Linked DNA regions of Homo sapiens. The protein of the gene in region 1 interacts with the protein of each later gene in a biochemical or structural test. Each region holds a gene or a part of one and is shown in the gene's direction. Other genes may lie near its edges.

Region 1 (4,478 bases):
AAAAGAAAATAGAAGAGTTGGCCGGGCGCAGTGGCTCACGCCTGTAATCCCTGCACTTTGGGAGGCCGAGGCAGGTGGATCACGAAGTCAGGAGATCGAGACCATCCTGGCTAACACGGTGAAACCCCGTCTCTACTAAAAATACAAAAAATTAGCCAGTCGTGGTGGCGGGCGCCTGTAGTCCCAGCTACTTGGGAGACTGAGGCAGGAGAATGGCATGAACCCAGGAGGCGGAGCTTGCAGTGAGCCGAGATCACGCCACTGCACGCCAGCCTGGGTGACAGAGTGAGACTCCGTCTCAAAAAAAAAAAAAAAAAATAAAGAAAATAGAAGAGTTAAGCCAGATTATCTAACTTGCTTGAGGGATGATGGCCTCTTCAGAGCCCTGTAGCTCTGCTACCATGTTGATCATTTGGGGGCTTTATAAGCGGGGTTTGGGAAATTTTACAGAACCCCCAACCTGCTCATTTCTTCCATGGCTATATTAATGGGTTTTTTTGTTGGTTTTTAGTTTTTTTGTAGAGATGAGGTCTCACCATGTTGCCCAGGCTGGTCTCAAACTCCTAGGCTCAAGCGATTCACCCGCCTCAGCCTCCCAAAGTGCTGGGATTACAGGTGTGGGCCACTGCGCCTGGCCCTATGAATGGCTTTATTTATTTATTTGTTTTTGAGACAGAGCTTCTCTCTTGTTGCCCAGGCTGGAGTTCAGTGGCGCCATCTCAGCTCACTGCAACCTCTGCCTCCTGGGTTCAAGCGATTCTCCCGCCTCAGCCTCCTGACTAGCTGGGATTACAGGTGCCCGCCACGGTGCCTGGCTAATTTTTTTGTATTTTTAGTAGAGATGGGGTTTCACCATGTTGGCCAGGCTGGTCTCAAACTCCTGACCAGGGGTCATCCGCTCGCCTCGGCCTCCCAAAGTGCTGGGATTACGGGCGTGAGCCACCGCGCCCAGCCCTATGAATAGTTTTAATGCCGCACTATTGAGAGGTTATGAGAGCTGACGTGCCGGGCAGCTGCTTGGGAGAAAGGCCCAGTGTCTGGGTGACGTCGCGTCTCCATACTGTCTCATTGAGGCTTTTCCTCTTTTCTCATCACAGCATCCTAATGTCCTATGATCACGTGGAACTCACATTCAATGACATGAAGAACGTGCCAGAAGCCTTCAAAGGGACCAAGAAAGGCACTGTCTACCTTACCCCTTACCGGGTGAGTTGCACAGCAGGGCAGTTGGTTGAGAGGCTTGTTGCTGTTGGAGGTGACGTGAGTCTTAGTCTCAGGTCTGCCTCAGCCTCATGAGTCAGGTGGCCTCTGAATCCTGGTGAGTGTTAGTGCTTCACTCTGCCTGTTTCTCTGTCACATGCTCCTGGATTCCAGAATCACCAGGCTCTTTGTGTAACTGACCTGACCACTGGGCAGTGAACCCATGTCAATTCCAGAGCCGCTGCTGCAAAATCTCTATAGAGTTGGATGCAGCCGCTGGCATGACTTGGGCCTGGAGGCCAGACTATTATTATTAATATTTTGTTTTCTGTGAGAGTAGCCCATGAAGCCCTGTGTGTATCCAGAGTGAGAAATCCAGTAAACAGGGTACAGTTGCATGGCACGGCCTCCGGACTGGGCAGAGAGCCCGGTACCACCCCGCAGAATGACAAATGCCAGGCTGCAGAATGGGCCCTGCCTGAGAGTTACCCACGTGGACTCTGAGAGGTTGAGAAATACAAATGGATGTTCTTGGAAAAGGATTGCTGCCTGTGGCTACTCAAGATTTAGACTCAAAGACAGGCTGGTGCGGAGGCTCATGCCTGTAATCCCAGCACTCTGGGAGGCCAAGGTAGGCAGGCCACTTGAACTCAGGAGTTCGAGACCAGCCTGGGCAACATGGCAAAACCCCATCTCTACAAAAAATACAAAAATTAGCTGGGTGTGGTGGCACATGCCTCTAGTCTCAGCTACCCGAGAGGTAAGGTGGAGAATAACTGGAGCCTGGAGAGGTTGAGGCTGCAGTGAGCTGGGATCATGCCACTGGATTCTAGCCTGGGCAACAGAGTGAGACCCTGCCTAAAAAAAAAAGACTTAGACTCAAAGACAGCTGGAAGAAGAGGAGCACATTTTCAAGTTTTAATCTCCATGACTTCACAAAGACAGGAGAGTCTCAAAACCCCATCTCTGGAGGCTCAACTTGGCACCTTCAGTCACAGATAAAAGTCGTGGGTTTAAAACCCTGGCTGGGGCCGGGTGCGGTGGCTCATGCCTGTAATCCCAGCACTTTGGGAGGCCGAGGCGGGCGGATCATGAGGTCAGGAGATCGAGACCATCCTGGCTAACACGGTGAAACCCCATCTCTCCTAAAACTACAAAAAATTAGCCGGGCATGGTGGCGGGCACCTGTAGTCCCAGCTACTCAGGAGGCTGAGGCAGGAGAATGGCGTGAACCCGGGAGGCGGAGCTTGCAGCGAGCCAAGATCGCGCCACTGCACTCCAGCCCAGGCAACAGAGTAAGACTCCATCTCAAAAAAAAAAAAAGAAAAGAAAAGAAAAAATAAAACCCAAGGGTTTCTCCAGGCACAGGCTCCAGGAGAGCTCTTGTTGCTGTTTATAGCCCCCCTCAATGGGAGCTAGCGACCTACTGCACCATCATTCTCAGTTCTGGAGAGTTCAGGCTGGAGACCCCCCTCTTTCAGGAACCCATCCCTGCCTTGCCTCTGCCTGTCCTTCCCTAGCTTCGTAGGCCCCTTCACTTAGGCAACACTGCCACCACCCCACCACGTCAGTGACAAAGCAGTCTGCCCTGCTCATAGATACTATCTGTGACCAGCACGTTTTTCTCCCGTGTGCGTGAGCTTGGCCTCTCCAGGCTGCGGTGAGCCCTTTCCCTTTCCAAAGCTCTCTCCAGGAGTGTCTGGCACAGAGAGAGCCATGGGGCTGCTGGACCCTGGCACTGGGAGAGGATTCGTCACTCCCAGGAAGCAGGCGGGAAGCATGGCAGCGTGGGCTGTGCTTCTAGTACTGATGGCCTCACCCTCTCTCCCTGCAGGTCATCTTTCTGTCCAAGGGCAAGGATGCCATGCAGTCCTTCATGATGCCATTTTATCTCATGAAAGACTGTGAGATCAAGCAGCCCGTATTTGGTGCAAACTACATCAAGGGAACAGTGAAGGCGGAAGCGGGAGGTAGGTGATGGGAACTCAGGGACACGCATGGGGCCTGCAGGGAGGTGTCCTGGGAACCTCTGACTGCCGCCGTGGGGGCGTCCCCTTCAGACCCTTATCGCCCTAGCCATGACCTCTTCCCAGCTCTGGGCTGCCAGCTGGTGGGGTTTGATTGCCAAGAGGTGGGGAAAATGCTGGCATGAAAGACAGCAGCTCAGATCAGCTTTTCAGAGCGTGAAGTCTGCAGAAGCCTGCGGACTGAGTCAAGATGCTTAGTGCAACTTGGCGAGCGCATACAAATTTTAGACTCAGGAAGGAGCTGCATCAGGTTCTTGAGAGGGGCCTTTTCATGAGAGCCAGGAAGAGGCAGCTGCCTCTGGGAAGCCAGAGTCACCCTGCTTTGGGGCTGGCTTTTTGGCAGGCCCCAGAGACCTCTGCATTGAACTTGCCTTCCCCTTGACACCCAGCCAGGCCCGCCCTTGCTATTGAGACACTCTTGGTCCCCCTTTGGGCAGAAGCCAGGCTAGAGGGGCCGGAGTCTGTCCTTGGGCCCCCTTAGGACGAGAGGTCTGCTCTGAATTTTAAGGTCGGCTGTTGCTGAGTGGGCTTGTTCCTGTGAAGCTGCCGAGTGCTTGACTGGGGGCGGAGAGAAACCTTGATGTGGCCTTGGCACCCGTGTACATATTGGGCCAAGGGTGGGAGGACAGGCTTGTTCCAGGAAGGAGAGGCCATTGTTCCAAAGGGGGAAGCGAGTACAGCAGGGCCAGGCCAGGCTGCAGTGCTGGCTCCTATGCAGGCAGCAGGCTGGAAACCATGGCACCAGGAAGTCCCCATCACAGTGCAGGCCCAGCCCCCGCAGGCCTCCCGGGCGTTGGATGAAGTCCTGGAGAGGAAAACAGCCATCTCTTTGGGCATAAGTTTTCTTTTCCTGTGCTGTTTATTCACTGTCCTTCCCCTTTCAGGTGGCTGGGAAGGCTCTGCTTCCTACAAGTTGACTTTCACGGCAGGGGGCGCCATTGAGTTCGGACAGCGGATGCTCCAGGTGGCATCTCAAGGTATCCAGGCTCCGAAGATTAGGGGCTAAAGACACACTAAACATGTAGGGGTTTGGTATGAGTTTGCTTCCTTTTCGTTTTGCTTTTTCAAGAACTCAAGAGGTAAGTGTTTGGGCACCAGGCTGACCAGGCCTAGGAGTTGGGAAGGAAAGCTGTCATTGGCATCAGCTCTGTCCTGTACCTCAGAGACTGCGTTTCCCTGCCTGGGGCAGGTGGATGACGTTTTGACAAAGCTGTTTGGACTCAAGGACACTTTACTATGGCCTCATAAAAC
Region 2 (3,992 bases), on another chromosome or scaffold:
TAACAAGCAGGCAAAACTCCGCTTGAGAAGCCACCAGCTCGCGCCCTGGGATCCTGGGGAGGGCATGGGCTCCAGCCCTGGGATCCCGGGGAGGGCACAGGATCGAGCCCTGGGATCCCGGGGAGGGCAGGGACTCTAAGTCTGGGATCCTGGTGAGGGCACGGGCTACAGCCCTCAGATCTTGGCCGCCAGAACTGCACTCCAGGCCACGCGGTGCTGAAGCGGGAGCCAGGCCCTATCTCCTGCGGGAACCCCGCTTGGGGGCCGGCACCGGGGCCATAAGAACACGCGGCCCTCTGTTCTTGGGGGTATGCGCTACAGCAGCATGGACCTCGGTCAGGTTATGAAAACGTGTGCATTTATGAGCTTTAGTTGTGCCCCAATGTTTTCTATGCGCTGTTCTTAGTCTGTTTTTCGTGTTTTGAGAAAACTGAAGATAACAGAAAGGTACAAAACACACGCCCATATTCCCATCATCCAGCATCAAAACCGCCAACATTTCGTCCCATTTGTTTCCCGGGTTTTGTTTCCTGTTTCACCAGAAATCACTGGTGGAGACGGAGACCCCAGTGCCTTCTCTCCGCCTCGGGCGCCTGGAGAAGCAGCTTCGGGGTCGGGGCGCCCTCCCAAGCGGTTGCCTCCGCGGTTCTCAAGCAACTACGCCGCCGTTTGGGTGGCGCTCGCGCCGAGACTTCATTTTCATTTAGCAAACATGGAGTGCTCCGCGCCGCTCTGGAGCCGGGGTGTGAGGGTGAACAGGGCTCCCCACGCTCGTTCCCAGAGCAAAGGAAGGCCCGCGGTGTCAGCGCAAGGGCGGGTGCGGGCCGGGAAACGACAAGCTGCCGCCTCACTCCTACCCAAAACCAGGCTCTGAAGTCCCTCCCGGCCCGCGACGCGCGCGCCCCACCCCGGCGCTGGCCCCGCCCCCTCACGCTGCCTCCTCATTGGCTCCTCCCGGCATCGCCACGCCCACAGGAGGCTCCTCCCAATGCTCACTTCACCTTTCACCTCTTCAGGGCCTCCGGTACGCCTCAGGCCCCGCCCACCGGGGGGTGGGGAAAGATGCTCTTCCGTGACCCACAATTATTGGTGACTATTGCCTGTCCATAACAGGAAAAGCGATTACGGATTGGCTGAGGCGAAGTAGTAGGGCAGAAAAGTGGGTATAGCTGCCTGCACGCACGCTTGGTGCGTGCGCGGCGACTGCGACGGGCAGTGGCAGTCATGGCGGCTCAGTGCGTGAGGTTGGCGCGGCGCAGTCTTCCTGCTTTGGCGTTGTCTCTCAGGTAAGGGGCACTTGGTCTCCCTGGGTGGAGGTGGCAGCGCGACCTCCCGCTCCGATGGGGGCCTTTCCCGGCCCCGGGGCCTCCTTCCCGGCCTCGGCCCCGGAGCTGGGCATCTCCGGGCTCGCGGTTCCCCGCCGCGGGACGCGGACCGCCCCGCTGGGGCCTGCTCTGCTGCCAGGCTGCCAGCTCAGGGCTTGGGAAGCGTGGAGCGGGCGGGCGCCGTGTCAGGAGGAGAGGACCGCAGCGCGGGGGGCGTTTGGCTCGGAAGGTACGGTGGCCCACGTGCGCGTGTGGTCCAGGGCCTGCGGCGACGCCTCGCGCGCATTCACGGTCTCGGCGCTCACGGGCGCAGAGGCAGCCGCAACTTGTGCGGTTGAAGAAGCGACCAAAGAAGCTCGAGCTTTGTCCAAGGTCACGCAGCGAGGCCGAGCCGGGCCGGGTGTGCCCTGGGCAGGAGCTGTGGTTACTCATTTCCGTGCCGCAGCTCGAGGCCGGGGCCACAGCGGTGCTCGGGAAACTTCGTGTCGCAAGGTGCGTGTTGCCCGTTCACGGGCTTTTTCCACTCGACCTCGAATTCCTTCACTCCGCCTTCTCCAGCGTCTGAGGTCAAAAGAGCAGTCGAACCTGTGCTGCTGCTGGGCGAAGAGTTTGTTTAGACAAGGGCACATTTCGGGCCTGAGGGCCACGAGACAGTGCCCCTTTTTTTTTTTCCCCTCAAATCTGCCCCTTCTGCTTTTTGAAAGTTCTACTTTAGAAGTTAGTATGGCAAGTACTTGCTGGAGGAAGTGCCTAGAACCAAGTTATTGATTAGAGAAGCCACTGAGGGCCAAATTGGCCAAAAGCTGGGCAGTGAGATGTAGTTCTTTCCTGAAGGAGAGCAGGCAGGTGAGGTGAAGATCACTTTCAGTCTAGGTGATTAAGGGGTAAGTGCTAGCTTAATAAATTATATCTTAACAACACAGGAGCCAAGAGCAACGACCCACGTGGAATACTTGAGTAAAAAGACTTTGGTCAAGTAATTGGTGGTTTTGTATTGGAATTAATTGCCAGGAAAGTGACCACCAAGTCAGCATCATTTCTGTCTCTAGAATGGTAGTTTTGTGGAAAGATGCTCAACTAGGGAAAGGCAGGAGAACTGACTGGTAGTCATAGCTCTCAGAGTAACTAGGCTTTCTGAGACTCAGTTTCCCTCTGCAGAACGAGATGGCCCCGGGTGTGGGTCCTGTTGCACATTCCTGGCCACACTTTGTGTTGGCTGTGCTTCGGAAAGGGGTCTGTGAAGAGCTGACCTGCAGAAAGGCTGGTGGCTGTCACACCCCCAGGCAGAACAACTGGAGAGGAAGGTGGGCTTCACAACAGTACACTCAGTTTTTATTTAAATTCTTAGCTTTTTAAATTCACAAGAGTAAAAATATAAAATGGTCATCGCTCTCCACCCCCATGGCAAGACTGTAATGGAGGCTTCCACTCCACTTCTTTCCACAGATCTAAGATATTAATAAGTACACAGGATTTCTAGTTTGTCTTTACAAAAATAGGATCCTGTTTTGTGTATTTCTCTGTAAGTTGCATTTCTTAACAGAACATCCAAAGTGTATCCAATAAATGGCAGTTTAACTCATTTTTAGGAGCTGCATAATATTCCAGATTGTGTTAGCAAGTTTATTCAACCATTTGCTCGCTGACAAACATTGTTTCCAACTTGTCGCTCGCAGTGCTGCAATAAACAGCCTTGACTGAGTTCTGTGTGCTGGCAGCCTTCACCTTCCTATTCGTTGAAGCAGTTTTAATCTGGGAAGAAAATTGAATGTAGCTTATTCTCAGATAGGACTGTGGCCTAATTTAAAAAGAGGTCCTGGCCGGGTGCGGGCGGATCACGAGGTCAGGAGATCCTAGACCATCCTGGCTAACACAGTGAAACCCCGTCTCTACTAAAAAAATACAAAAAAATTAGCCGAGCGTGTTGGTGGACGCCTATAGTCCCAGCTACTCGGCAGGCTGAGGCAGGAGAATGGCGTGAACCCGGGCGGCGGAGCTTGCAGTGAGCCGAGATGGCACCACTGCACTCCAGCCTGGGTGACAGAGCAAGACTCCGTCTCAAAAAAAAAAAAAAAGAGGTCCTCTGGTCCTGGTGAAGAAATCTAGGTTTTAAGACTTTATTTTATCATTCGTTGATGGCTTTGTGACCTGGGCTTATCACTTGGTCTTGGTCTATTTCACCGGTACATATCCCATGCTTTCCTGTCTTCATGCCTTTGTCCAAGCAGTTTCATCTTCCTGAAGCTGCATCTATCCCATTGTCCCACCTCTGATCCCTTTTTCGTAACTCTTACCTATCCTACAAAGCCTTTCATGGTTTTCCATTCCCCAAGCTAGGTATCTCCTTCTACTCTGAGCCTCCCAAAGCACAAAGCACTTAGTTCCCTTTTTTTTTTTAATCACTTTTTTTTTTTTTTGAGACAGAGTTTCCCTCTTGTCGCCCAGGCTGGAGTGCAGTGGCGCGATCTCAGCTCACCTCAACCTGCGCCTCCCTGATTCAAGCGATTTTCCTGCCTCAGCCTCCCAAGTAGCTGGGATTACAGGCATGCACCACCACGCCAGGCTAATTTTGTATTTTTAGAAGAGACGGGGTTTCTCCATGTTGGTCAGGCTGGTCCCGAACTCCTGATCTCAAGTGATCCACCTGCTTTGGCCTCCCTAAGTGCT
Region 3 (4,478 bases), on another chromosome or scaffold:
CTGGCTGCCCCCTAGAGCCTGCCCATCCCAGCCTGACCAATGTCCACAGCCAGGTGAGCTCCCACCTCCCCCAGCCTGGCCCTGAGCTTTCTAAGTGGGGGTGCCTGGCCCCCACCAAACACCCTCTCCCCACGCAGGGAGCAGCCAATCTTCAGCACACGGGCGCACGTGTTCCAAATTGACCCAGCCACCAAGCGAAACTGGATCCCAGCGGGCAAGCACGCACTCACTGTCTCCTATTTCTACGATGCCACCCGCAATGTGTACCGCATCATCAGCATCGGAGGCGCCAAGGTCAGGGTGGGGTCTGGGTGGGGCAGAGGCACCAGGAGTCCTGGTGACAACCTTGGGTCTGGTGGCTGGCTTGCTGTGTGCCCAAGGGACAGGAAACCCTAAGCCTTCCCAGGCCCTAGTCTCTATCTCCTGAAAGGGTTCAGAGTAAAGACCTTCAAGACCCTAATACAAGGTAATACCTGGGGGGTTTCATGTTTGTTAGTATCTGTCCCATCTACCTTGAACTTTGTTCCCCGACCCTAGGCCATCATCAACAGCACTGTCACTCCCAACATGACCTTCACCAAAACTTCCCAGAAGTTCGGGCAGTGGGCCGACAGTCGCGCCAACACAGTCTACGGCCTGGGCTTTGCCTCTGAACAGCATCTGACACAGGTGGGCCGGGTGAGGGGGAGAGTGGAGGGAACCGATGAGACTGGGCCCAAGTCTTCTCCTGGGCTCACTCTGGGATCTTGGGCAGGTCCCCTATCTTCCCATCTGCAGGATGGGATTGTAGGATGAGTTGAGACTGAAGCCCCTTTAAGCTTCCCCGGTTTGATTCCTAGTTCATTTTTCTGTTTTTTTTTTGAGATAGGCTGCAGTGATCTTGGCTCACGCAACCTCCGCCTCCCGGGTTCAAGCGATTCTCCTGCCTCAGCCTCCTGAGTAGCTGGGACTACAGGAGTCCGCCACCACGCCCAGCTAATTTTTTGTATTTTATTAGAGACAGGGTTTCACCATGTTGGCCAGGCTGGTCTCGAACTCCTGACCTGAAATGATCTGCCTGCCTCGGCCTCCCAAAGTGCTGCAATTACAGGCATGAGCCACTGTACCTGCTCTTGAGTCCTAGTTCTACTGCCTGTAGCTCTAATTTTGGACACACCCTGCTCCTCTTTGGGACATCAAATGGGTGGCTGGGCTGGGCTGGGCACTTTCCCACATGCCCCAGCAATACCTTCATCCTCACCTCCCTGCACCCTGTGCCGTCTCTATACTTCCATTATTATCTTTATCCGTGGTTTTGTTGATGATGAGTGCTTTCACGAAGATCTTCTTCTTTTTTTTTTTTTTTTTTTGGAGATAATGCCTTGCTCTGTCCCCCAGGCTGGAGTGCAGTGGCACGATCTCGGCTCACTGCAACCTCCACCTCCCGGGTTCAAGCGATTCTCCTGCCTCAGCCTCTGGAGTAGCTGGGATTACAGGTGCCCACCACCTCGCCCAGCTAATTTTTGTATTTTTAGTGGAGATGGGATTTTGTTGGCCAGGGTGGTCTTGAACTCCTGACCTCAGATGATCCACCTGCCTCGGCCTCCCAAAGTGCTGGGATTACAGGCATGAGCTACCACACCAGGCTTTCTTTGTTTTCTTCTAGAAGGTTTAGAATTTACCTTTCTTCTTTTTTTTTCCCTCCCTCCCTCCCTTCTTTTTTTTTTTTTTTTTAACAAGATCTTGCTCTGCTGTCCAGGCTGGAGTGAAGCAGTGCAATCATGGCTCACTGCAGCCTCAAACTCCTGGGCACAAGGGATCCTCCCACCTCAGCCTCCTGACTAGCTGAGACTATAGGCGTATGCCACCATGCCTAGCTAATATCTTTAATCTTATTTTTTTTAGAGATAGGATCTCACTATGTTGTCCAGGCTGTTCTTGACTCCTGGCCTCAAGCGAGCCTCTCACTTTGGCCTCCTAAAGTGCTGGGATTACAGGCTTGAGCCACTGCACCCAGACAATTTACTTTTTTTTTTTTTTTTGAGACGGAGTCTCGCTCTGTCGCACAGGCTGGAGTGCAGTGGCGCGATCTTGGCTCACTGCAAGCTCTGCCTCCCAGGTTCACACCATTCTTCTGATTCTTCTGCCTCAGCCTCCCTAGTAGCTGGGACTACAGGCGCCTGCCACCACGCCCTGCTAATTTTTTTTGTATTTTTAATAGAGACGGGGGTTTCACCGTGTTAGCCAGGATGGTCTCGATCTCCTGACCTCGTGATCCACCCACCTTGGCCTCCCAAAGTGCTGGGATTACAGGTGTGAGCCACCGCGCCCGGCCCCAACAATTTACCTTTCTAATTTAGGTCTTTTTTTTTTTTTTGGAGACAGAGTCTAGCTCTGTTGCCAGGCTGGAGTGCAGTGGCCCGATCTCGGCTCACTGCAACCTCTTCTCTCCAGGTTCAAGCAATTCTCCTGCCTCAGCTTCCCAAGTAGTTGGGATTACAGACACACCACACCTGGCTAATTTTTGTATTTTTACAAAATTTTTGTTTTTTTAATTTTTGTATTCTTAGCAGAGACAGGGTTTCACTATGTTGGCCAGGCTGGTCTCAAACTCCTGACTTCAGGTAATCCGCCTGCCTCAGGCTCCCAAAGTGATGGGATTACAGGTGTGAGCCACTGCACCCAGCCTAAAAAATCATTTATTTATTTATTTATTTATTTATTTTTTTGAGACAGAGTTTCACTCTTGTCCCCCAGGCTGGAGTGCAATGGTGCGATCTCGGCTCACCGCAACTTCCGCCTCCCCGGTTCAAGCAATTCTCCTTCCTCAGCCTCCCAAGTAGCTGGGATTACAGTCATGTGCCACCATGCCTGGCTGATTTTGTATTTTTAGTAGACATGGGGTTTCACCATGTTGGTCAGCCTGCTCTTGAACTCCTGACCTCATGATCCACCTGCCTCGGCCTCCCAAAGTGCTGGGATTACAAGCGTGAGCCACCACACATGGCCTTATCTATTTATTTTGAGACAGAGTTTTGCTCTGTCACCCAGGCTGGAGTGCAATGGCACAATCTCAGCTCACTGCAACCTCCACCTCCTGGGCTCAAGCAATTCTCCTGCCTCAGCCTCCCAAGTACTAGGATTACAGGCGCCCACCACCATGCCTGGCTAATTTTTGTGTTTTTAGTAGAGATGGGGTTTCACCATGTTGGCCAGGCTGGTTTCGAACTCCTGACCTCAAATGATCCGCCCGCCTTGGTCTCCCAAAGTGCTGGGATTACAGGTGTGAGCCACCGCACCCGGCCTAAAAAATTATTTTTAAACTAAGGAAATTTATTTTAAAACCGGGGTGGTGGGGGGAAACATATCCTATCCTAACTGGAAAACTGGTATTGCTTTGTCATAAATAGGTGGTAAATGTAAACATGTAAACATTTAATACAACAAAAACAAGAATGAGATGATTACTTTCTCATTGACTTCTGATGTCTCTCAGAGCCTGAGACCTAATCTCTTTGTTATAAAGGAATAATAACAGGTGTTAAAGACAGATTAGCACCCACCTGAGGCTCTCTTTGTTGAAATAGCCCTGATAAAGATTAAAAGGGACCCCACATGTTGGCTCATACCTGTCATTCTCACACTTTGGGAGGCCGAGGTGGGTGGATCACGGGGTCAGGAGTTCGAGACCAGCATGGCCAATATGGTGAAACCCCATCTGTACTAAATACAAAAATTAGCTGGGCGTGGTGGCACGGGCCTGTAGTCCTAGCTACTCGGGAGGTTGAGGCAGAAGACTCGCTTGAACCTGGGAGGCAGAGGTTGCAGTGAGCTGAGATGGTGCCACTGCACTCCAGCCAGGGTGACAAAGCGAGATTCTGTCCCCCCCCAAAAAAAAAAAAAAAAAAGGCTGGGTGCTGTGCCTGTAATCCCACCACTTTGGGAGGCTGAGGCAGGCGGATCACTTCAAGCCGGGAATTTAAGATCAGCCTGGCCAACATGGTAAAACCACATCTCTACTAAAAATATGAAAATTAGCCAGGCATGCTGGTGCATGCCTGTAATCCCAGCTACTCATGAGGCTGAAGCAGAGGCTGCCGTGAGCCAAGATCATGTCACTGCACTCCAGCCTGGGCAACAGAGCAAGACTCCATCTCAAAAAAAAAAAAAACAAAAAACAGGAAAAGGGCCATTCTGGGGAACATGGCTAGACCCCGTCTCTAGAAAAAATTAGCCGGGCATGATGGCACACACCTGTAGTCCCAGCTCCTTGGTGGAGGGGTAAGGTGGAAGGGTCACTTGAGCCAGGGAGGTCAAGGCTGCAGTGAGCCGAGATCATGCCACTGTACTGCAGCCTGGGTGACAAAGTGAGACCCTTTCCTAAAAAGAGGACATGGGAATTCCTTTCCCTTTCTCAATGTGGCCCAATGTATTTAAATGCCACCTCTGTGATCTGATGCCACCTGCCCACCCACCATGGTACATCATTTTTCAAAGTT
Region 4 (4,478 bases), on another chromosome or scaffold:
ATGGTGGAGTGGTTGGTTCTGGTGTTCTGATGCCTTTTTATTTTTGTTAGGGAGTACAGGAAAAGGTCTAAATAGACTTTTTAATCATGGCAGATTTTTTCCCCATGCAGAAGCAGCATGCTCCTGATTGTCAAAGATATGATTTAAGACCATATAATAAATGGCATTGGAGTGTTCTATAATAGTTTTCTGGGGCATTTGCCAGGACACCTGATTATTCAGTATTCAGGTGTGGGCTCTGTGTTTCATCTTGGTGGATTTTTTGAACTCTTTTGGTGATTTTCTGCTTCACTTTTTGAACCTAAGCCATGGCAGCAGCAGGGAAATGGACTGGAATTAAAAGTGATCTTTGGCTCACTTGTTTAGTTGCCTTCCAGCATCTGGTAGGAATTTGGAGAGATGGGGGAAGTGGTGGTTCTGGTGAAATTTAAAGATTATCTGTACACTTCTGTTTGTTCTCTCTGTCCTACCCCTATGTCCTGGGTAGTCAACAACTGCCTGAATATCCCTTGCTCAGTGGACAGTTTGTAATTACACTGGCTCTCCTCTTGCTTGTAGGCGGCCTTAATTGTACAGCCTGTCTTCTTGGGGCCCAGGCCCTGCAGGTAGGCCTAGACCTACCTGCCCTTCTACCAACTGAGCCTGTCTGGGAGCAAGGCCCCAGGCTATGCTCTCTTTCTGTAGTAGAAAGGGAGGTTGGCAAAATTTAATAAGTAGATGAATTTATCCCCTAATTACTAATAAATTATCACGCTGTCTATAGTTTTATCATTCTTGAATGATACGACGAATCTGAAAGATCCCTGTGGAGAATATGCTATATAAATATTGTTTCATTTTTCTTCCTGTTCCTTCTGCTATGCCGTTGTTCCACTAGGCATATAGTTTGATGATGTTGTGCCATGAAAAAAACAACTCCTTGGTCCTTGTTGCATGATTTGATGTATACCACAATGCCAAAGGGTCACCTATTAACTCATTGGCATTGAAATCATGCGAGAACATTAACAAAATGGATCTGAGGAAACTTTGATTACAAATCTAAAGTGAGCCTTCATTATTTCAGTATGGAAGCTCATATTTTTTTTCCTTCCTTCATTCCTTTATCTCTTCATTCATTCAATCAATATTTATTTAGTAGAAAATAACAGACAGGTAAATGGGATGTGACTGCCTTCAGATAACTTGTATTTTTGCAGAAAAGGAAAAATAATTAACTTTAATCCAAGTTAAAGACCAGAAGAGTAAATTAAAACCATTCCCTGCTTCACAGGGGCCCAGTGGCTACCATCTTTGACTTTCATTACTGGAACTGAGACCAGATGCACCTGAGCAGAGTTCTGTGAAAGTGAGCATCAGATACTCCTTTTTCTTTCCAGTGACCCCTCAGGTTACTGGCTACAGAATTAGGATCAAAAGAGCCAGTAAGGTTTGGTATCTCTGCTGATAAGGAATCTTCTGAAGCAGGAGAATTTCCTTAAATGCAGTCCCTCCAATCTAGCATTGGCTGGTGTAGCAACAGAGCTGAGCTACTTGTATCTGATAATTGATGAATTATCTTGGAATGCGGCAGACACTTCAAGTGGAGGGGTACCAGGAATCTAACATGGAAGACATAAAGAGTGCATTTCTGTGAAAGGAAGTCTTTTGTCTGTGATAGAGTTTTCTTTTATTTTTACTGAATTTCCCAAAGGCTGTGAGGCTACTTCAGGTTCACCAAAGAAATGGCAACTCTAGAAAAAAAAAGCAATTCTTATTGAAGTTTTGCTTTCTCTTCATTTTTTTAAGGAAATTAAAATTTGATTTGTTGAGTTTTTTTAAGTAGAAAAAAATTTTAATTTTTGACTAAGCGTGGTGGCTGACGCGTGTAATCCCAGCACTTCGGGAAGCCAAGGCGGGCAGATCACTTGAGGTCAGGAGTTCGAGACCAGCCTGGCCGACATGGTGAAACCCTGTCTCTAGTAAAAATACAAAAATTAGCCAGACATAATGGCGGGTGCCGGTAGTCTCAGCTACTCAGGAGGCTGAGGCAGGAGAATCTCTTGGACCTGGGAGGTGGAGGTTGCAGTGAGCTGAGATCGAGCCACTGCACTCCAGCCTGGGCAACAGAGTGAGACTCTGTCTCAAAAAAAAAAAATTAAAAATATAATTTACTGAGTTACTTTAGTGATTAGCATTTAAAAAAGTGTTTTTGCTAAGTGCAAGAAACCAGACTTCCCCCCAAAACTACATCCTGTATGATTCCATTTATGTGACGTTCTGGAAAAGCAAAACTATGGGGACAGAGAAGAGATGAGCACTTGCCAGGGTTGACAGTACAGAAAGAGTAGACTCCAAAGGGGCAGCACTGAGGAATTGTGGGGCAGATGGCACAGTTCCGTGTCTTGGTTGTGGTGGCTATTTCACAGCTCTACATTTGTCAAAACTCAGACATGTATACCACAAAGAGTGAATTTTACTGTATGTAAACAAAAAGAATAATAAAAGAAAACGAATTGCTACACACAAAAAGACAAAACGTATGTTTATGGTACGGAATGTATAAAATACTAAACAACAAAGAAGGAAATTATAATCACCTATACTCTTACCTAGAAAGAGTGGCTGTAAATATGCTGATGATTTCTTTCTAGTCTTTTTGTATGTATCATGTGTATCAATGTGTCTACTTTGTTTTTTAAAACACAAAAGTGGTAGCATACTTTAATACTGCTTTGTTGCCTCTTCTTAATATATTGGGAAGTCATTTTTTTATTCTGTGTCAGCCATGAAGTTGTGCTGTGACTTTGTATGTACCCATTCCAAAGCGCCTAGAATCCTTTCTACAACAGGCCGTACATAAATTTTTAAATGTCATGAGCCACACACACCCACAATGACTACAGAGTATTCTGTTGTTACAACTGAAAAATTCAACGCAATATTTGCTCAGTATCCTAAAAGGCACAATTGCAACTTTACCAAATGAAGTGGGAAATCGTAGTCACAGGTCAGACATTGAGAAACAGGCTTCTCAATGCCTGTTTATCTAAAAGAACAATTCCTTGACATGAAAACAGGCATATGGCTTTACCTGAAGAGAGTATTTCTTTTCATGTGTGTTATTCATTTAAATATAACGGTTTGGGGCCATCTTTCTGGAAGATTTTAACCTCGAGGACCAGGACCTGGAAGACGAGTAAGTGGCAAAGCCTTGGCTCCCCCTTGTCCCTTCACGGGGGCTGCCTTGTAGAGAAATCATTATTCCCAAAGCAAATTCAGCCCTGCTTTTACCCTCAACCTTTTCTTTCTTTTTTTTTTTTTTTTTAATTTGGGGGTTGGGGGACAGGAGAATGCAGTTTGTCAAACAAAAATGCTGACTAAGCCTGGCCTCGGGTCGCCGGGGCAACAGGGACGAGAAAAGAGGGAGGCCTCGGAATTCTTTTGGCAGGTCTGTGGGATTTCTGCCAGGCTTGACAGCCACCAGGCGCGGCGGGCCAGCTGGCTGACCTCGCACAGCCATCCTGACAGAGGGCTCCTGGAGGGGGACACACCTGGCTGTGAGCAGCACTGGCCTGGGGAAGGTTCTGAGGCCCCCCCCTTTTTTTTTTTGTCATGCAAAGAATAGCTATTTAGCGAGCTAGGAGAGTGTCGTATTGGAGCAGATCATGAAGCATAAATGTAGGCTATTTCATAGCCTTTGCTTCAGAACAGGGGACTATTTAACTTTTAGAAAAGCATTTCATAGCATTAGGTTTCAGAGTTGACTGGGTTAACAGAGGTCACGTAGTCTAATATTTTGTGAATCTATAAATCCCTCCATATAAGCTTGGCTATTTAAGTTCATTCGTTCATATATTTGTTTTACAAATGCTCTAGGCATTAAAAGTACAGCTGTGAACAACAGACCCCAGCCCCTTCCCTCACAGAGCTTCCATTCTAGCTTGTGTCAAGCGTTTTATTTGCTTACATGTCCCAGAAATAATCCATTTTCCAAAATGTCCCAGTGTGCCCTTGTTGTTGAACAATAGTATCAATTCAAGTCTTTTTTTTTCTTTTTCTTCTCTTTTTGAGACACAGTCTCACTTCATCACCTAGGCTGGAGTGCTGTGGCACAATCTTGGCTCACTGCAACCTTCACCTCCCAGGTTCAAGTGATTCTCATGCCTCAGCCTCCTGAGTAGCTGGGATTACAGGTGCGCATCATCACGCCTGGCTAATTTTTTGTGTTTTAGTAGAGACGGGGTTTTGCCATGTTGGCCAGGCTGGTCTCGAACTCCTGGCCTCAAGTGATCTGCCCACCCTGGCCTCCCAAAGTGCTGGGATTACAGGTGTGAGCCACTGCACCAGGCCTCAGCCTTTTTTTTTTTTTTTAAGTGAAGACAGACGAGTATCTAAATTATAATGTTTTCTTTAATGTGATTTGAAAGGACAACAGAAACCAGTTGTGGAATAATACAAATTTGCTTTATGCACTCTGAGTAAAAAGAGCAACAAAT
Region 5 (4,478 bases), on another chromosome or scaffold:
CTCAAAGAGATAAACGTGGCTATGTTCAGACAATATTTATTTGCAAAAATAGGCGTTGTGCCAGATTTGGCCCAAAGGCCAGTTTGTCTTACCCCTGTTGTATAGTTGATTGAATTACTGAGGGTACTTTTAGCGTGTGCTCATGGTTCTTTAAGGGCCACGATGCTGGCTCTTTAAACTTTTTCACAACTTTCACCACCCTCCCTTTATTAATAAAGTCTTCAATTTTTTCCTTCTGATTATAAAAATATAACTACCGTTTGGGGAGAATTAAACTGTTACTGAAATATTTAAAGAAAAATGTTTCTTAATGAGTCATATTTTAGCATATTTCCTTTCAGTCCTTTTTTTCAGGACTACTCTTAAGGGAAGCCATTGAGAAATGGAAGAGGCCATATTTTGTTTAAGAAATAAAATGTGGCCGGACACAGTGGCTCACGCCTGTAATCCCAGCACTTTGGGAGGCTGAGGTGGGCGGATCACCTGAGGTTGGGAGTTCGAGACCAGCCTGACCAACATGGAGAAACCCCGTCTCTACTAAAAATACAAAATTAGCCGGGCATGGTGGCATATGCCTGTAATCCCAGCTATTTGGGAGACTGAGGCAGGAGAATCGCTTGAACCCGGGAGGTGGAGGTTGCGGTGAGCTGAGATTGCGCCACTGCACTCCAGCCTCGGCAATAAGAGCGAAACTCCATCTCAAAAAAAAGAAAGAAAAATAAATAATATGCATACCTTTTGGGGGGAAATTCAGTTCTTTTCATTCTACATCTTTTGAACTTGTTTCCTACTGACCCCCAACTTTTGGTTGTGTCTCATTTGGGAAATAACTTTAAGGGGAAAAAAATCTAGCTCATATTAATTATGTAACAAATTGCCACACTCTCTTAACGGTATTTCATTATTAGTAGAGGTAACTATTGTGCTGCTGAATATGAGTGTAATAAAGATTTTCAAAAGAATCACTGTCAGTCATTACAAGAGCTTGGGATTTTCTGGCACCATTATTTGAAATTTTAACATGGTTATGTAAACAGATCAGATAGCAAGGAATGCTTATTTGATGATGATTATTGTTTGTTTTTACAGAGTTCCGTTCTGGAAAGGCACCCATCCTTATTGCTACAGATGTAGCCTCCCGTGGGCTAGGTTTGTATAGATAGGTGTCTCTGTCAATGGTATATGTATCTTTTGGTTTAAAGATTCGTCATTTCAAATTCAGACTTCAAGTTTAGAAAGTTGTATATACATGTGGTTAGATAAATATTTGAAAGAAAAAAATACAAAGCGTGATTCTCCCCATTCCCTGCCCCCCCCACAATTTTTTTTAACTTTGGTTTCCCCCACCCCCCTTTTATTTTCAAAGTCTCTTCCTGCTCCTAACAAACAGGCTTTGGTCTGCAGCAAGGCCTAGGCATGACTATTCAAACAGAGGGAGAGGAGACAGACAGCTGAATGGCTCAGCTTCTCTCTGGTGGTGGTTTCTGGCTGGATAGAATAAGCCTGACGAAACCTAGCTATTGTAAGCTAGTTTCTTCAGTTATTCTTTTCCCTATCCCTGTCTAAGCTAGATATATACAGAGAGGTCCAGTTTTATGAATGCTTATTAGATGGAATTTTATAAGTCTAATGCAGTATCAGAATAGCAAATATGTGTATTGCCCAGTTTAATTTACTGAGGTCAAATTATCATGGGCACTTGGCTATCCCCTCCTACCCATGCACTTATCTGTAGGTGTGTTATCAACTGATGATTTTCTGGAGTTTTTGACCCATTACCATTTAAGATATACAGAGAATTTTATGGTAGTTTAGCCCACTATTCTGAGCTAAACAGGTCTAACTCAGAACTTCTATATTTTAAAAAAAAAGATTATTTGTATTACAAGGAAATCCTTAAATTATTGACAGGTATTTAATTTGCCCAGTAAGGTGAGAAGTACCATATTATTCCCTTATACTATATAATATAAAGAGAACAGGTATTCAAACTGGAATACAAAAGTAATGAAGCCTTTTTATGCATTGCACTCATCATTCCCTCCTTCAGAGGTGGTGACCTGCAGCCATGATGGAAAGTTCTCTCTGCCCCTCTGCCCTCTGAGGTCATGTCTGGATCTGTGCCATTAGAACTTGGGCCTGTTGGGAGAGGAGGCGGAGGCCTGAAAGCAGTTTACATAAAGCTTTCAGTAATGGTTGGTTTTTAAACAGGCTTGCTATGTGCTGGTAGCTTCTTTGTGCATCTTGCCTAGACAATTAAAAATATTTGCTCCATGTCCCCTTGCATTTCTAAACCAAATTAATTGGCTACCATTAGAATAACTTAGACTCTTCATCCCACCCCCACTCATCCAAGTGAGGGGAGAGGGAAGGTACCCGAGTCTGTTTCTTGTTACTCAACATCAGTGCTTGTTTTGGGCCCCTTTGTTTGCTGCCTTGTAAAAAATCAAAAGAGGGAGAAAACCCACCAAAATGGCAGAATTCTGACCAATGTCCTACAAGATCCTGGAAAGTGAAGGCTTCTACCTCATAGACAGGGGTGCAATTTTCAGCTGAGTCACCAGGGCCTTTTTTCACTTCCTGTCAAGCGATGGTCTCTTAAATGTTCCCTTCAGGTAAGTTCTTTGATTCCCATAATTTTATAATAGTCATCCTTAGGCTACCACTTCCCTTTCCACTGGGATATTTTTTATTTTTCCTTTTTTTTGTTTGAACTACACACTGTTAAACTAAAAGTATTGAATTTATTTTGTTTTGTTTTTTAACAGAAGCTTTGATATCAGCTGCAGATCACTCAATACATGGCCGAGACAAATCTACATTGGCCGGAAGCAGCTCTAGATGAGCCTCTTGGCTAGACTTAGTCCCTCCTTATTAGTGATTGGCGATTCAGGCCATGTCATAGGGCCTTTCAGACAAAAGGTTCTTATCCCAGTCAGCTGGCCAAAACATTAACTTTGGATTTCTTACCCTGCTACAGCATCTTCTAGAAAGGCAGCAAGATAATATTGTGGCAGTGCACAGATAACATCAGGGTAGACTTGACTGGAGAAAACCAAATTCTGCGCTTGCTCCTGTGTGCCCCCATCCAGCTGTGCATGCACACACAGGACACCTTTCTAGTATGAAGAACTTGCATCATGTCTGCCCTCTATTGAGCACCCCCTTCTAGAAATACTTCCAAGTATTAGCATGTGAACTGTTGACTCCACCCTGGTGCTTTCTGCTAGGAAAGCACACTTAACGCATCCAGTGTAGTAATTGAACTTGTTCTACTGCCATGGTCATATGCAGTGGGATTGCATAAGGAGCATTATCCTAGCTCTGAAGATACCATGGAGTAGAATTCCCCACCCCCTGTCTTACATCCACCCTGGCCCTGTAAATTCTTTTTTCCTTTGTTGCGTCAACGACCCTAGCCGGAGACTCAAGCTGCCCCCTGTGATAAGTGCCTTCTCGTCTTTCTGGTGTGATTCAGGACTTTAGGGGTCAGTAAAGACCGAGGAGCCTTTATTGTAATAAGAAACAGACATAATGCCCCTTCTTCACAAGCCCTGTAACAACAGCTAATTTTTTTTTTTTAATCTCCCCTTTCTCCCTTGAAATTAATCCAGTCTGGGCAATAGATGCAGTCTGACCCTTTGGATGTAACTTACATTTTTTTTTATTAATTATTTTTTTCTACAATCACCCCAATTATCCTTGGGGGAGGCGTTGGAGGACCTGAAATTTTTACCCGAACCCAGGTTCTCCGGCGCTTGGCAACCAAATGGGGCTACAGAGAAGCATCTAAGCCAGTTCACAGAGCGAGCGTGTGTGGGGACTTCTCACTGCCACGGACCCTTGATGCATGCTCCCCGCGCTCCAGTGGTCCCGTGTCAGAAGGCGGAGTTTTCGAAAGGAGGCCGCCAAAAATAAAAGGCAAAGAGACGGGATCGGCTGCAGCGGTTTCCCAAAGGAGGAGGGAGTGTGCATCGGTCTGGTAACAAACAGAGAATGTTTTTTAATTATTTATATCACAAAAATCTGTGTTTTATCTAGGATATTTTCTGAATATTCTTTGTAAAATGCAGATTTTTTTCCACAAAACAGTAGGATTCTTTGTTATATTCTTAAAATTGTTTGTTTAAGTAGGTAAAAATATACATTCAGCTGAAAGCATTACACTAACATTTACATTTTAAGCCTTAGGAGGTTATTCAGCCCAATTCCCAGCAGTAGAGAGAATACTAAACTTGTGTCTCAAGGTTTCATGGTTTTCCCACGTTCTTTGGCTATTAATTTAATTTCCCAGGTCACGTAGACAATCATTGATAATTGAAACAAGTCCTGAGTTGAAATAACCTTGAGTTGAGCAAAAATATCCTCATTTTGGCAGAAGCTGGGCTTGGTAGTACAGTAAAATTTTAGTGTAATGTGCTCTTGTAATTGAAAGGGGATAGATAATCTGGATGTTTCTGCAAAGGAAAATAGGTGTG
Region 6 (4,352 bases), on another chromosome or scaffold:
CCTTCCTTTCCTTCCTTTCCTTCCTTTCCTTTCCTTCCTTTCCTTCCTTTCCTTCCTTTCCTTTCTTCTTTTTTTTTTTTTTTGAGATGGAGTCTCACTCTGTCACCCAGGCTGCAGTGCAGTGGTGTGATCTCAGCTCAATGCAACCTCCGCCTCCTGGGTTCAAGTGATTCTTTTGCCTCAGCCTCCCAAGTAGCTGGGATTACAGGCGGCTGCCACCACGCCTGGCTAATTTTTGTATTTTTAGTAGAGACGGGGTTTTGCCATGTTGGTCAGGCTGGTCTCAAACTCCTGACCTCAGGTGATCCACCCGCCTCAGCCTCCCAAAGTGCTGGGATTATAGGCGTGAGCCACCACGCCTGGCCATCTGCAGTCTTTATGAAGAGTTTATGTTATGTTAAATTAAAAATATATATATATTTTGTAAAGACGGGGTTGTTCTTGCTGTGTTGCCCAGGTTGGTCTCGAACTCCTGGCCTCAAGTGATCGTCCCACCTCAGCCTCCCAAAGCATTAGGATTATAGGTGTGAGCCACCATGCTTGGTGGATTTTTTTTTTTTTTTTTTTTGAGATGGAGTCTTGCTCTGTCGCCCAGGCTGGAGTGCAGTGGTGTGATCTCGGCTCACTGCAAGCTCTGCCTCCTGGGTTCATGCCATTCTCCTGCCTCAGCCTCCCGAGTAGCTGGGACTACAGGCGCCCACCACCATGCCCAGCTAATTTTTTGTATTTTTAGTAGAGATGGGGTTTTGCTGTGTTAGCCAGGATGGTCTCAATCTCCTGACCTCATGATGCTGCCCACCTTGGACTCCCAAAGTACTGGATTACAGGCGTGAGCCACTGTGCCCAGCCTGGATTATTATTTTTATAATCAGAAAGGACATCAAAGCTTTTTCCATTTTGGAGAAACGAATTTTGGGGGGTTTTTTGTTTGTTTTTTGAAACGGTATGCCACCATGCGTGGCTAATTTTTGTATTTTTTGTTAGAAATGGGGTCTCACTGTGTTGTCCAGGTTAGTCTTGAACTCCTGGGCTCAAACAATTCTCACCCTCCTTGGCCTTCTAAAGTGCTGGGATGATAGACATGCGCCAGTGCGCCCAGCTGAGAAACAGTTTTAATCTAGTGACAAACACTGGTGAAGCCCTCCTCCCTGTCTGACTTTCCAGGGGCTGAGTTATCATCAGAAAGTTGTTTGCAGAGCGGGGCTGGCCAAGGGGTATCAGGCTGGCCCCATCACAGGCCGGGTACTGCTCCTCCTGAGCAGGGTCCATCTTTAGCTCTGAGCAGTCAGGGCTAGTCAGGAACTCCCAGCCTGATGTGCAATCTCAGACAGGCTGTGTGTCCCTCGCTGCCCCAGGGGCAAGACTGGCGCCCTCCTCCACCACCCTGCCCCTCCCTGCCACCTGAGAACACTTGGATGCATGTTGTGTTCATGGCCGCATCCTCTGGGGGCTTTTGTTACACCTCTCAGGTGACACGTTCCGTGACTCACCAGTTAGATGACTCCCTTCTGTCCTTGTCTCTTGAAACACCACCTGGGGCTGGCTGGCCGTGCCCCTTGGCCCTGGTGGCCTCCCCGTGGCTGTGGTCACCCTGCATTCTTGCTGGGTTTTGGGAGGCACTCAGGTCCCCCCACTTCCCTTTGGAGCCACCTCATGGCTGCTCCTGTGAGCGCAAGCTGGTGTCCCCCTTCATGGTGGAGACTGAGGCTCAGAAAAGTCCGGTCTGCAAAAAGGTGCCCTGCCATGGGCCGCCGTGGGCAGGTCGGGCTCTGGGCGCATCCTCGTTGGTGTGTCTGTGCTCCAAGCAGACACCAGGGCTCTGGCTGGGTCTCCTGGCCTAGATGTTTCCTAGGGTCCTGTGTGCTGGGAGCCTAGAGTGAGTGAGTCAGGCAAGGTCCCCTGCCGAGGTCTCCTTCAAGGCTCCTTGGGAGCTGGTGCAGGGGTGGCAGGTCTGCCCATGGCCTCGGGGTTCGTTGTACAGCAGGAGTTGAGGCCATCTGGGTCTGGGCCCCATGGCTTTGAGATGTGTGGGACAAATACAACCTTCCCAAGTCTCTGTAAACAAGGGGTCGTACCCCAGGCTGGACTACAGATGGGGAAACTGAGGCTCAGCGAGGCGGCTGGCCCCTTGGCACCGTATCATCTGAGATCTCCACCTTGCAGAGCGGTGGGCGGTGTCAGTCCCACCCCACCTCTGAGGAGGTGACCTTGTGTGGTGCTGCCTGAGGTGGGGGTGACGGGCAGGCATGGGGGCTGGAGTGGCTGACCCTGCCTCCCCGTGTCTGCCTGTGTCTCCAGGATAGTGGCTACCCAGAGACGCTGGTCAACCTCATCGTCCTGTCCCAGCACCTGGGCAAGCCCCCTGAGGTAAGCGGCCCCCAGGGCTCCAGGCCAACCCTAATGTCCAGACCCTGGGACCCCAGCCTGGGGTCCAGGCCCTAATCCCTAGGCCCCTGGGAAAACTCTGTATACAGTATGCCTACCGCAGCCCACCTCCCTCACAAACCCTGTGCCCCCCAACCCATCCTCACCTGGGGCCCTGCCCGACCTGCTCCCCTGAACACCACAATACATCCCCCACCATGTACGGAGGCCAGCTCCATGCCAGCGCCTCTCCAGGGGGCAGGCCCATCCCTCCACCCCCACCCTGAAGGTTCTCCGAGATCAGCCCAGTCCCAAGGCAGGGTGAGGAGCCCCCTGGGGTACTGTGGCTCTCACCCCAATCCACCCCTGTCCAGCAGGTCAGAGCCACCGTGGGGTCCCCGTGTTCGGCTCACCTGCCTCCCTGCCTCCCCTGCAGGTGACAAACCGATACCTGTCCCAGCTGAAGGATGCCCACAGGTCCCATCCCTTCATCAAGGAGTACCAGGCCAAGGTGAGTGGTGGGGATGGCCTGTCCCCGAGAACCAGGCCAGGGGGCGCCTGGAGCTCAGCCTGGGCTCACATGCGCCCTCTCTCTCTCCCTCCACCTGTCTCCCCACACCCTGCCCCCACCCTGTGTTGCCATGTGTCTTGCTAAAGGAGAACGACTTTGACAGGCTGGTGCTACAGTACGCTCCCAGCGCCTGAGGCTGGCCCAGAGCTGTCAGGACCATGAAGCCAGGACAGAGGCCAGGAGCCAGCCCTGCAGCCCTCCCCACCCGGCATCCACCTGCATCCCCTCTGGGGGCAGGAGCCCACCCCCAGCACCCCCATCTGTTAATAAATATCTCAACTCCAGGGTGTTCCACCTGATGATGTGCTCTGGTCACTTTGCTGGGGGCGTGTGGGAGCTGACGCTCAGGGAGAGTCCTGGGGCACTGGCATCCAGGGCTGTTCCTGGAGACCAGGGTCTGTGACGAGCAGCAGGTGTGCAGACCCCCACCCCGCCCCTCACACAGCCACAACCTGCTCCTGCAGGCCAGAGGCAGCACAGCCCTGTCCCCATGCTTCACCCTGGCCCCTAGAGGCCACTGAGCAGCCCTGGTTGGCATCGGGGGAAACTGAGGCACAGAGAAGTCATGCCGCTATCATGAGGGGCACCAAGATTCAAAATGAGAACCCCTAGTGGCCTGGAGGAAGTGGGGGCCAGGGCAGGAAAAACTCAGGCCTCAGCTCAGCAAAGCCGGAGGGGCCCTGCAGGGTCAGCGTTAACCCCAGGTGCTGCTCCTGCCGCCCCGCAAACCCTCCTCCAAGGCAGAGTCCTGCTGTGGCAGGGTCCTGGGGCCAAGCACCCAGCCGCGATGAGAGGCGGCCGCACCATTTAGGGAGGGAGGTGGGTGGGTGGCAGCAGGGCTGGCCGGAGCCTCCCAGATGTCACCATTGAGCTGTGCCCACCCGAACAACAAAAAGGAGCTGCCAGGCTAGGTTCTAGGGGGACAGGCACCCTGGCAGTGGGCATGACCGGTGCAGAGGTCCCTCGGTGGCACAGGGCTGTGAGGTCAAGGGGCGCTGGATGGGGATGCATGCCCTTTGACCTCTGAGCCTGGCCTGGGCTTATCTCCCAGGGAAAAGATAAGACTGGGTTTCCCCAAGCCACACCCAGGCCTATTCATTTGAAACCAGACCCCGTCTCTGGTTGCCAGGGCAGGACAGCAAGCGACCCCCACCCCCAGCCTGGTAGGGGAGGGAAGTGGCAAAAGAGGACTCCCTGGACAGGGACATTAGGAGGGGTCCAGGCCGAGCTTTCTGGAGGGAGGAGACCTTGGGGTGGGTGGGGGGACACTGGCCTCAAGACTGACCTCCGCCCAGCCTTGGGTGCCTGGTCCCCAGCTGCCAGTAGAGCCGCCTTCCATTCCTGCCCTGCACCCACCCGTTGGCAGCCTCCTGGCTGGACCCGCCAAAAAGAAATTCGAGGCTGAGCTGGGGCTAGT
Region 7 (3,235 bases), on another chromosome or scaffold:
TTTTCCTTGTGGGGGCGAGCTTATCTTCAGTTACCTTTTCCGGTCCTCTCTTGCAACCCCTCTCCCTCTCATCAGCTGAAAATTAGTGGATGCAGCTAGGGCTCTGAAACACATAAATAATCATAAGATGCCAGATAAACTGTATTGGTTTTAAATTAGAGACGTGCCGACCATGTCTCCCTCTGAACAGCAGCCTATTATTTTTAATTATGGCTTGCAAAGCAAAGTGATTTCTTGCCCTCTTTATAGCATCCCTGACAGTATTCTGTCAGTTTGGATGATATGATGCCTCATCACTGCACACGTCCCTAGCCACAGCCGCAACTGTTACTCAAAAGGTGAATGAAAGTGATCAGCTGCACTCTTTGCAACTTACATTTTGAAGTGGGCTGGGAGGAAATGTACCCCCTTACCTGTGGTCCCATTGTAAATCTGGGTCAAATATGACATTTAGAAAAAGGTTTTCATGGGATCTGGATGAATTAATGTGTTATGTGTTTGTGCTAAGTATGAATGTATGGTGAGGAGTGTGTGTGTGTGTGTGTGTGTGCATTAAATGTTTTAACACAACATTGCCAACCCTTCCCCTAGCAGCACCGTGGGCAAAGCATAAAGGGATGATCTGGCAGCAGCCCCACTTGGGTTTTCTACCTGATGGACCACAATTAAGAGTGGTTGGTTTGTCAGACAGAAGGTTCTACAAACGATTTGGTATCGAATTACATTATACATGGAGAAGTTGAGGGGTTGGATGAATTTGTTCTTGCACGTTCAGAAGGATACCATCTTTTTCTCTGTGTGGAAGAGGCGCCTGCCACGACGTATTGATATGTGTATTTATTTTCCAAGCCTGTCCCTGTATGAGGTGTCAAAAGTTACACCAGCTTTACAAGCGGAGTTTATGAACTCGTTTTTCCAGGATAGTCACATTATACTTTTTACAGTCATGTGCTTTCAGCCCAGTACCCTTTGCTATGCCAAGATCCAGCTGAAACTGAACCAGGTGGGGGAGGCCTGCTAATGCCCAGGCAGTCGAAATGACGCCATCTCATCACTCCTTTTCTTAAAATTTTTTTTTGTCTTTCTTCTTGGATTTCCAGCAACAGGGAGCTGCCACCACCGTGTACTGTGCTGCTGTCCCAGAACTGGAGGGTCTGGGAGGGATGTACTTCAACAACTGCTGCCGCTGCATGCCCTCACCAGAAGCTCAGAGCGAAGAGACGGCCCGGACCCTGTGGGCGCTCAGCGAGAGGCTGATCCAAGAACGGCTTGGCAGCCAGTCCGGCTAAGTGGAGCTCAGAGCGGATGGGCACACACACCCGCCCTGTGTGTGTCCCCTCACGCAAGTGCCAGGGCTGGGCCCCTTCCAAATGTCCCTCCAACACAGATCCGCAAGAGTAAAGGAAATAAGAGCAGTCACAACAGAGTGAAAAATCTTAAGTACCAATGGGAAGCAGGGAATTCCTGGGGTAAAGTATCACTTTTCTGGGGCTGGGCTAGGCATAGGTCTCTTTGCTTTCTGGTGGTGGCCTGTTTGAAAGTAAAAACCTGCTTGGTGTGTAGGTTCCGTATCTCCCTGGAGAAGCACCAGCAATTCTCTTTCTTTTACTGTTATAGAATAGCCTGAGGTCCCCTCGTCCCATCCAGCTACCACCACGGCCACCACTGCAGCCGGGGGCTGGCCTTCTCCTACTTAGGGAAGAAAAAGCAAGTGTTCACTGCTCCTTGCTGCATTGATCCAGGAGATAATTGTTTCATTCATCCTGACCAAGACTGAGCCAGCTTAGCAACTGCTGGGGAGACAAATCTCAGAACCTTGTCCCAGCCAGTGAGGATGACAGTGACACCCAGAGGGAGTAGAATACGCAGAACTACCAGGTGGCAAAGTACTTGTCATAGACTCCTTTGCTAATGCTATGCAAAAAATTCTTTAGAGATTATAACAAATTTTTCAAATCATTCCTTAGATACCTTGAAAGGCAGGAAGGGAAGCGTATATACTTAAGAATACACAGGATATTTTGGGGGGCAGAGAATAAAACGTTAGTTAATCCCTTTGTCTGTCAATCACAGTCTCAGTTCTCTTGCTTTCACATTGTACTTAAACCTCCTGCTGTGCCTCGCATCCTATGCTTAATAAAAGAACATGCTTGAATATCATCACCTGAAGTTTGTATTGTTTCTTTAAATGTTTGTTTCAGTTTGTTTTTGTTTTTCATTTTTTAGAAAAGAAATCTAGAGGAAAAATAAAGCGCTTCTAATAAAGCGCTTCTCGTAGATGCCAGGAAAACACGATTCTTGTTTCTTCTCTGAGTGAGTTTGTGTTTTGTTTTTGTGCTTTGTGGCTGTCCGTGGGCCAAGTTGTCTCACGCGATTAGCATGCCAGCATATTTTCTGTTAAAGAAAGAAAAAAGAAAAATGACTATTGTTTCATTTCACCTTAAGATGTTTTGTTATTACTTACTTACAGTGAGTTATTTTAGTCCTCAATGGTCTGCTCCCCTGCAATTAGCAAGTACTTAGTGATTAGCGGGTATCTCTATGTTTGAGAATGGGAGCTGTGCAGAAGCTCTTATCTGCGCATCCCATCTCATGGACACCATGATTTCCAGCCCGTTCCAGCAAGCACATGAGAAAGTCCACTCTGGCAAGACGGAGAAAATGCTTCTGCTGAAATACCAGGAAGGTGTGGAGGCTGGGTGTCATTGTTCCCCCTCCTGATCATGGCAGCTTCAGGCCAGACAATGTCTTGAACTTCTGTGCCTCTGCATCTGTGGTGCAGAGCAGTCGAACAAACAAACACCATTGCCCTCCAGTGGCCCATAGCCTTGCCACATCCTCCCATCTGGCTATAGTCTTCCTTACGTAATCCTTATTATCACAGGACCTTTGAAACTATGAATCAGATAATGTCACTTTTCAGACATTATTGTCATTTGCAAAAGCAGCCGTCAGAACTCCACTCTCAGAATCTACACCTGGAGGGGATCACCCCTCCCATATGACCTCTGACTTTGGCCATGTGACTGGCCTTGGCCAATTTGGAAAGTGCTTTGCACTGGGGCTTGCCTTTCCTTGTTGATCTTTGGAACCCTGCAACTTCCATCATAGGGAACGGCTCCTGGGCTAGCCTGCTGGATGATGAGAGACACGTAGTCACTCCCAGAACCGGCATCCAGCAGTTAGTTAGTTAGACATGTAAGTGAGGCCATCCCAGACTATCCAGCCCCAGCTG

What was found.
Region 2: the proteins of WBP2 (region 1) and GRPEL1 form a complex in vitro, tested with the Homo sapiens proteins (one study listed by BioGRID).
Region 3: the proteins of WBP2 (region 1) and HOMER3 form a complex in vitro, tested with the Homo sapiens proteins (one study listed by BioGRID).
Region 4: the proteins of WBP2 (region 1) and WWTR1 form a complex in vitro, tested with the Homo sapiens proteins (one study listed by IntAct).
Region 5: the proteins of WBP2 (region 1) and DDX17 form a complex in vitro, tested with the Homo sapiens proteins (one study listed by BioGRID).
Region 6: the proteins of WBP2 (region 1) and COPE form a complex in vitro, tested with the Homo sapiens proteins (one study listed by BioGRID).
Region 7: the proteins of WBP2 (region 1) and WWOX form a complex in vitro, tested with the Homo sapiens proteins (one study listed by BioGRID).

Annotation. Positions count from the first base shown.
Region 1 is NC_000017.11:75,848,296-75,852,773, reverse strand, and holds part of WBP2 (WW domain-binding protein 2), read left to right. Parts: intron 1-1,097; coding exon 1,098-1,206; intron 1,207-3,034; coding exon 3,035-3,170; intron 3,171-4,111; coding exon 4,112-4,204; intron 4,205-4,478. UniProt on the Homo sapiens protein: Acts as a transcriptional coactivator of estrogen and progesterone receptors (ESR1 and PGR) upon hormone activation. In presence of estrogen, binds to ESR1-responsive promoters. Synergizes with YAP1 to enhance PGR activity.
Region 2 is NC_000004.12:7,065,265-7,069,256, reverse strand, and holds the start of GRPEL1 (grpE protein homolog 1, mitochondrial precursor), read left to right. Parts: upstream 1-1,192; 5' UTR 1,193-1,224; coding exon 1,225-1,286; intron 1,287-2,630; exon of another isoform or gene 2,631-3,077; intron 3,078-3,992. UniProt on the Homo sapiens protein: Essential component of the PAM complex, a complex required for the translocation of transit peptide-containing proteins from the inner membrane into the mitochondrial matrix in an ATP-dependent manner.
Region 3 is NC_000019.10:18,934,544-18,939,021, reverse strand, and holds part of HOMER3 (homer protein homolog 3), read left to right. Parts: 5' UTR 1-39; coding exon 40-53; intron 54-137; coding exon 138-294; intron 295-537; coding exon 538-669; intron 670-4,478. UniProt on the Homo sapiens protein: Postsynaptic density scaffolding protein. Binds and cross-links cytoplasmic regions of GRM1, GRM5, ITPR1, DNM3, RYR1, RYR2, SHANK1 and SHANK3.
Region 4 is NC_000003.12:149,535,585-149,540,062, reverse strand, and holds part of WWTR1 (WW domain-containing transcription regulator protein 1), read left to right. Parts: intron 1-4,478. UniProt on the Homo sapiens protein: Transcriptional coactivator which acts as a downstream regulatory target in the Hippo signaling pathway that plays a pivotal role in organ size control and tumor suppression by restricting proliferation and promoting apoptosis.
Region 5 is NC_000022.11:38,488,727-38,493,204, reverse strand, and holds part of DDX17 (probable ATP-dependent RNA helicase DDX17 isoform 1 precursor), read left to right. Parts: intron 1-1,089; coding exon 1,090-1,149; intron 1,150-4,478. UniProt on the Homo sapiens protein: As an RNA helicase, unwinds RNA and alters RNA structures through ATP binding and hydrolysis.
Region 6 is NC_000019.10:18,898,396-18,902,747, reverse strand, and holds the end of COPE (coatomer subunit epsilon), read left to right. Parts: intron 1-2,298; coding exon 2,299-2,367; intron 2,368-2,800; coding exon 2,801-2,875; intron 2,876-3,021; coding exon 3,022-3,069; 3' UTR 3,070-3,234; downstream 3,235-4,352. UniProt on the Homo sapiens protein: The coatomer is a cytosolic protein complex that binds to dilysine motifs and reversibly associates with Golgi non-clathrin-coated vesicles, which further mediate biosynthetic protein transport from the ER, via the Golgi up to the trans Golgi network.
Region 7 is NC_000016.10:79,210,508-79,213,742, forward strand, and holds the end of WWOX (WW domain-containing oxidoreductase), read left to right. Parts: exon of another isoform or gene 1-1,100; coding exon 1,101-1,289; 3' UTR 1,290-2,160; downstream 2,161-3,235. UniProt on the Homo sapiens protein: Putative oxidoreductase. Acts as a tumor suppressor and plays a role in apoptosis. Required for normal bone development. May function synergistically with p53/TP53 to control genotoxic stress-induced cell death.